2 linked regions of the Homo sapiens genome follow. The protein of the gene in region 1 interacts with the protein of each later gene in a biochemical or structural test. Each region holds a gene or a part of one and is shown in the gene's direction. Other genes may lie near its edges. The genes, in order: IFT172 and LHX4.

Region 1 (3,814 bases):
GGAGTTTGAGACCAGCATGGGCAACACAGTGAAACCCTGTCTCTACCAAAAAAACAAAAAATAAATACAAAAATTAGTCGGGCATGGTGGCATGGGCCTGTAGTCCCAGCTACTCAGGAAGCCGAAGTGGAAAGATCACTTGAGCCCAGGAGGTTGAGCCTGCAAGTGAGCTGAAATAGCACCACTGCACTACAGCCTGGGTGACAGAACAAGACCGTGTCTCAAAAAAAAAAAAAAAAAAAGATGCTGTGGAATAGGGGATAAGGAAATTCCAGGAGCCCTCCTAGAGGAGGTTGGACTTCTAAGGCATTTGGATTGAGATACTAAGAGAGGAAGCTAGAGGAGAACTCAGGGACAGAGAAAAAGTTGGATGTGGCCACTGAGAGGATTTGTGTTTAGGAGCCTGGAGCTTACTGCTTATAAGAAGGGATGAATTAGGTGAAAGGGACCTTGAGACAAAGGGAAATAAAAACTCTTAGAGTAATGAAAAGTGAAAATTATTCCCATTTATGTAAAATATATATATTTATGTATGTAGATTCATAGAAAAAAGAGTTAATAGTTTACTCTGGAAAGGGGAAAGGAAAAAGATGGGGGATAAAAAGGAAACTTTCATGTTTTACTCTATATAATTGTGTGTTGTTTGAATCATTTACATTAAGAATTACTTGTGAGCCGTGCCTGTAATCCCAGCACTTTGGGAGGCCGAGGCGGGTGGATCACCTGAGGTCAGGAGTTGGAAACCAGCCTGACGTGAAACCCGTCTCTACTAAATACAAAAAAATTAGCTGGGCGTGGTGGCACATGCCTGTAATCCCAGCTTTCTGGGAGGCTGAGGCAGGAGAATCGCTTGAACCTGGGAGGCAGAGGTTGCAGTGAGCCAAGATCGCATGCCATTGAACTCCAGACTGGGCAACAAGAGTGAAATGCCATCTCAAAAAAAAAAAGAATTACTTGTATAGGCCGGGCACAGTGTCTCACTCCTGTAATCCCAGCACTTTGGGAGGTCAAGGCGGGTGGATGACCTGAGGTCAGGAGTTCAGGACCAGCCTGGCCAACATGGTGAAACCCCGTCTCTACTAAAAATATAAAAATTAGCCGGGCATGGTGGAACGTGCCCGGAATCCCAGCTACTCGGAAGGCTGAGGCAGGAGAATTGCTTGAACCCGGGAGGGGAGGTTGCAGTGAGGTGAGAACGCGCCACTGCACTGCAGCCCCGGCGACAGAGTGAGACTCCATCTAAAAAAAAAAAAAAAGAAGAATTATTCGTATAATACTGAAATTTGACCCTCCTTAAAAAAAGAAGCCCTATGCTCTTTGTGGGCCCAGACGGTGTTGGTTAATGTGTAGCACATCTCCTTTTCTGAGGAGCTTTACCAGGTGCATATTAAAAATTTCCAATACATGCTGGGCGTGGTGGCTCACGCCTGTGATCCCAGCACTTTGGGAGGCTGAGACGGGCTGATCACAAGGTCAGGAGTTCGAGACCAGCCTGACCAACATGGTGAAACCCCATCTCTACTAAAAACAGAAAAATTAGCCTGGTATGGTGGCACACACCTGTAATCCCAGCTACTCAGGAGGCTGAGACAGGAGAATCGCTTGAACCTGGGGAGGCGGAGGTTGCAGCGATGAGATTGTGCCACTGCACTCCAGCCTGGGCGGCAGAGTGAGACTCTGTCTCAAAAAAAAAAAAAAGAAAAAAGAAAATTCCAATATACAAGCATTTTGAGGTTTTTCTAGAGCACAAGGTCAACCCCTATGTGTATAGGGGTGTGTGTGTGTGTGTATGTGTGTGTGTGTGTGTGTGTGTGTGTGACAATTTGTGAAGAGTTCAGGATTAGGATGTGTTGGGATAGGGAAATGTTGGAAGAGATTTCTGCAGGGTATGATGGTCAGAGTGAATGTACCAGGTGTTGAGAGTGAGGAATTTCTCGGGTGGAGTCTTCGAAGAGTGATTGAAACCCTCTACTTCTGTCTTAGGGGAAGTTGGTTAACCACCCGTGTCCACCCTATGCCTTGGCATGGGCAACCAATAGCATCGTGGCTGCAGGCTGTGATCGGAAAATTGTAGCCTATGGAAAAGAAGGTCACATGCTACAAACTTTTGATTATAGCCGTGACCCTCAGGAGCGGGAGTTCACCACAGCTGTATCAAGTCCTGGGGGCCAGTCTGTTGTGCTAGGAAGTTATGACAGGTAAGTCCCCTTTCCAGTTTTATCTACTGCCTACTTTCCCTGCGAACACTCTCTGCTTTAGCCAAATTATTCTGAGCCAGAGTGCGAGACTGGAGCAGAATCAAATGTATGTATGTAATTCATGCGCTTTCCTCTTCCTGCTCCCGCTATCCATTGGTGTGCTGGCAGTTCCAAAATGTCCTGGGCTCTTGTTTTGTCTCTGTGCCGCTCCCTGCACTTCCACAGCAGAATTCATCTCTATTTTCTGTTTCCATTGCCCCCTTTGAGACCGCTTAGAGTTTCTCACATTATATTACAGTTTGTTGTTTGCAAACTACTGTTGTTTAGCCAGATAGATGGCTAAATCAGAGTCCTTGAGAAGGGGGCTTATTATTCATCTTTTCAGTGCCTAGATTAGCATCTATATGCTATATATATTTAAGATATGCTCAGATGTTTGGCGAATGAATGAATGAATGATGGAACAGCAGATAAACAGCCATGTTCCAGGTCTCATCATTTCTCTGGCATGTGTTTAACCCCAGCTTTATCAGTCCTGTCTTTCTATCCCCTTCAATCTTATGTCTCCTTGTATTCTCTTCTTTCTTCACTGACTCCTACCATTTATCTCCTTGTTCCATATTTTTTTGCTCCTAGTAGCTTATTTTTCTCACCTGCCCTGGTCTTTTTGTTTTCTCTGCTCCCCTCACTCTTATTCTGTTTTAGTTTTGCCTTGATTTTCCCAGCTTATTTCCTGTGCACCTTTATATCCTCTTCTGCTAGACTGCCTAGCTTGTCTGTTCTTTTTATTTCCTTTCTTTTCTGATATAGCAAGACTAATTTCCTTTGGTTATCAGCCCATTTGCACTCTTTAGCTCAGCCTCAATCTCTTCTAAAAGCCACATACTTTATTTCAGGCTTCGGGTGTTCAACTGGATCCCTCGAAGAAGCATCTGGGAAGAGGCAAAGCCCAAGGAGATTACCAATTTATACACCATCACTGCCTTGGCCTGGAAGCGGGATGGCTCACGGCTCTGTGTGGTGTGTTACTAGTAATCCCTTTCTGGATTGGTGACTTTCACCAAACTAGAAAAAAATCCTGCCTTATCCTAAAGCACTGTTCCCTGACACTATAGAATCTCCTCTTTCCTTTTGACCCTGACCTAAAATTCTGGCATTAAAGGCAGGAAAGAGAAATTCATACTTTACCCTAGGTCACAAAAGGGACAAAAAATTGTGTGTAGGCAGGGCTAGTTTTTCCCTTTTATCCCATTAATATGTTGTGCCCTTGAGTCCAATGATTGTAGCCTCTTTCCTTTTGGTAATTCCAAAAACTGCCAGCTCTTTCACTGCCAACTCTTCTCTAGACTCTAGAGCTTAGGTTTTGAGGATGTCTCTAGATACTCTCCCCATGCCAGTGTACTATGTGTGTGACCTTTTATGCTGTCACTTTCCCTTCTAGGGCACACTATGTGGTGGGGTGGAACAGTTTGACTGCTGCCTCCGAAGGAGTATTTACAAGAACAAGTTTGAGTTGACGTATGTGGGACCTAGCCAGGTAAGCAGGATGGTAGCCTACTGCACTGAGAACTTGCGTGGCTCATTCCTCCTTATAACATTTCCCTGCCTTCTGGCCA
Region 2 (3,814 bases), on another chromosome or scaffold:
GAACTCCCCCAAGCCTGCCCGGCACGTGAGGGAGCAGCTGTCCTCAGAGACAGGCCTGGACATGAGGGTCGTACAGGTGAGATGCCAGCACTCCTGTGCCCTCCGGGGATCCCAGGCCCGGGACAGGGGTGGAAGGTATCCTGAGTGACATCAGCTCACGGGTGGTTGGGCTCAGGGCTTGACCCCAGGGCTTTTGCCAGAACTGAAGACAGAGTTCTGAGGCCCACCTGGGGAGAGGGGGTGGGGCGCATCGCACTCCCAGACCTGTGCTCCATTCAGGCTTCAGTCTGCTTCCAGCCGCCCGCCTAGGGGGTCCTGGGGGCTTTGGGTTTGTGGTGGACGCCCCCTGAGTATGTCCCTTGTGCTTGTGTGGCAGGTTTGGTTTCAGAACAGAAGGGCCAAAGAGAAACGCCTGAAGAAGGATGCAGGGCGGCACCGCTGGGGGCAGTTCTATAAGAGCGTCAAGAGGAGCCGGGGCAGCAGCAAGCAGGAGAAGGAGAGCTCTGCAGAGGACTGTGGGGTTAGTGACAGTGAGCTGAGCTTCCGAGGTGAGCAGGGCTGGAGGGGCCAGGCCGAGGCCTTAGGAAAGTCCCCTGGGAATCTGTAATCCCTGGCACTCAGGAGGGATCTTTCTTGAGGCCTTGGCAACTCCCTCCTGAACACAGGCTTTTCCTTAAGACTTGCAGTGAAGGGTGGGGGAAATGGTAGTGGCCCTTTACCATGGGACAGGAGTAGGAAACAAGATTGCTGAGGTCTGGAAGCTGGGATGGGCCAGGCCCCGTCCTGTGGCCCCAAGGTCTCCCCTCCCCTCCTGCTGACTGGGGCCTCCCTCATCAGCCCACACAGCTATGAACAGATGACTGGGTTCCAGCCTTGTGCCCCTAGCCCCTCTCCCATCTTTGTCCCCTTTGCTGGGACACTGGCCTACTCCCATAGTCCCCTAGAGCCACCCCTTCCTCCAGTCCTGGTGGTGGGGAGGTCATGCTCCACAGGTTTTTTCCTGGGAAATCAGTACTGTGAGTGCATGTGAGATGGGGAACTGGCTTCACTTCCGAAATCCCTTTCCCCACCACTCACTTCATTCTGTCCCCTGCACACAAGCTTTGCAGCATGCACTATATTCAAATTCATGCATCAGCAAAATTGTAAATTACTGCATGTTATGAATCCTCAGGTTGTTTGCAAAGAATCATAACTGTTCTCAGGTACTGAGTTCTCAAATGTGGAAGGTCTTCTGCGGAGGGGGAAAGGGAAGAGTACTCAACTGGCGATCAGAGACCTGGTTTCCAGTGCAGCTCTGTCAAATCGATTCACTTCTCTTGAGCCCCAGTATTCCCAAGAGGAATACCATATCTTTGCCCATCTCACTGCGTTGTGGGGATCAATGAACACAACCAACTGTGGATGTGCTTGGGGAAAGCCTGGCACATTTGTATACCTGGAAGGCATGATCGTTCCCACAGGGAGCGTGTGGCTCCCGCAGAGGGCCCTGGTCATTTGGGATGACAGGTATAGGGAAAAGGCTAACTCATGGCCATTTGACAATGGAGTGGAGCCTTCATCTTCCTGCTCCCTTTAAAGAGCATGAGCTCCCCCCACCATGTTTTTTCATAAGGGGAATGGGGGGCAGGCCTCAGAAGGGATGGGGTGTTGAAGTCTAGTCTGGGGAGGCCTTATTTAGGGATTGGTGCAGAGGCCCAGGTGGAAATAGAAAAGGAAGTTTGTGGGACAGAGGATGGAACAAGTTGCCTGCCAGGACAACGATGCCCTGGGAGGACTCTAGTTCAGCCCAGAGGTCAGCTGAGCCCTAGAGGGCAGCCTCCTCTGAGAACACAGGGCCCGTGAGGCCTTGGGGACAGCTCATGGGACTAATACTCACCTTTTAGGCTTCTTGGCAGGATTGGGAAAGTCAATCTCATCTGGGCTGTTGAAGTCAACACCTAGAACATACTGGATTGTTAAGCTCATTTCTGTTGGGTGCAGGTGGGTCCCTGGGCTGACCTATCATTGGTTTCTCTGGGAATAATTTCTCAAAGACTAAAACTGCTCACCTCTGTTGGAGAGAGAAATTCTTTCAAGTGGCAAAGATTCCATTAGATCCCCTTAATGAAATTCTTTAAGAAAAAAGAAGGTTCATTTGCCTTAATCAAGTCAATTCTTTGTCCCCAGTGAAGAGCTTATTGAATACAGACAGAAACCAAGTCCTTTGATATTGAACCTCTCTTCCAGATAGACCAGAAGGATTTTGTACAGATGTCTAAGAGTGGTCCTCAGCTTCCCTGACCATATGGGCCTGCTTGCTTCCCAATCAACTAAACCAAGCCCTTTCTCAGCTTGAAAGCTTTCAGGGTAAATGTTGTCAGCATGTAGTTTCCATTTGTGATGTGGAGACATCTGACCCACCCAGCCTTAGGCATTCATCCTCCTCAGTGTAGCCAGAGTATTAGTACACGAGCCACAAGGGACCAACGAGCTCACCAAACATTTGTCCATCCTTCTGGGACCTGGGAATTTAGTCTTTGCAGGTGTTTCTTGTTTTTCTCCTTGGCCTGGGTTGGCCTCTGGATATCAGGCTGCCATATTGGTGTGTCTGACCCATGCTTGGCTGCAAGGCAGCTGCCATCCTTGGGCATCTTTCCTGGTCATGTGTGTTCCTAGGTTGTGAAGAGCAGGGGACCATCAGAGTCCTGGCAGCTGACAATAAATCTCCGTTCTTTTGTCCACAGAGGATCAAATTCTCTCAGAACTTGGCCACACCAATAGGATTTATGGCAACGTGGGGGACGTTACAGGCGGACAGTTAATGAATGGGAGCTTCTCCATGGACGGGACAGGACAATCCTATCAGGACTTGAGGGATGGGAGCCCCTATGGAATCCCCCAGTCTCCATCCTCCATATCGTCCCTGCCATCCCACGCTCCTTTGCTCAATGGGCTGGATTACACGGTGGACAGTAATTTGGGCATCATTGCGCATGCAGGGCAGGGAGTAAGCCAGACGCTGAGAGCCATGGCTGGGGGACCCACCTCTGACATCTCCACAGGAAGCAGTGTAGGCTATCCCGACTTTCCAACTAGCCCAGGCTCTTGGCTCGATGAAATGGATCATCCTCCTTTTTAAACTTCTCTCCTCCCCACCCTACCTGCCCCCCTGGCTTGAGAGAATATCTTCAAGGATCAAAAGAGACTTGCCTTTTAAGGATCGAAAGTACGCCAATGTGAATTTCCATTATTTTCAATGGAAGTCCTCCGCTGATTCCTAGAAGGCTGTGAGACCACACTAGGGCATTGTTTCCCTGGGGAAGCAGTGGGAGAGCAGACTCATCTCAGAACACAGCACAGGGGGTAATGGCCTAGAGCTCTAGGGACACTGGCTTGTTGGGTCTCTCCCCTGCTGTTCTGCTTAGGGGCTTGGCTGCTCAGTGCTTTGGTAGCACAAGGTGACTGTGATAGGCCCCCTTGGCCTTTGGGAACTTTGCTCCAACTGGTGTGTCTCACACAATGCCTCCCAAAACACTGCTCTCACCAGAACTGAGACTCCTAAGGTAGAGGCCTCACAGCCCTTGAGTAAAATAAAAGTGATTTCTGGACCATCCTTATTGAACCCTATATTTCAAAATGAAAAGATCAGTTATTAAAGGTCAGTGAACACTTTGATGGCCAGTTTGATATTAAAAACATGCCCCCTCCTTTTTTATTTTTGCTGTGAAGATATGAATTCTTTCCTACAAACCAGAGAATATGAACCTGTTTTGGTTTTTAAGTGTCCCATCTATATCATTGACTCTGATGGCAAGAGGTGGTTTTCATTGCA

Evidence for each region.
Region 2: the proteins of IFT172 (region 1) and LHX4 form a complex in vitro, tested with the Homo sapiens proteins (one study listed by BioGRID).

Annotation. Positions count from the first base shown.
Region 1 is NC_000002.12:27,479,430-27,483,243, reverse strand, and holds part of IFT172 (intraflagellar transport protein 172 homolog), read left to right. Parts: intron 1-1,983; coding exon 1,984-2,198; intron 2,199-3,094; coding exon 3,095-3,218; intron 3,219-3,639; coding exon 3,640-3,735; intron 3,736-3,814. UniProt on the Homo sapiens protein: Required for the maintenance and formation of cilia. Plays an indirect role in hedgehog (Hh) signaling, cilia being required for all activity of the hedgehog pathway.
Region 2 is NC_000001.11:180,271,459-180,275,272, forward strand, and holds part of LHX4 (LIM/homeobox protein Lhx4), read left to right. Parts: coding exon 1-76; exon of another isoform or gene 77-376; coding exon 377-548; exon of another isoform or gene 549-2,726; coding exon 2,727-3,121; 3' UTR 3,122-3,814. UniProt on the Homo sapiens protein: May play a critical role in the development of respiratory control mechanisms and in the normal growth and maturation of the lung. Binds preferentially to methylated DNA.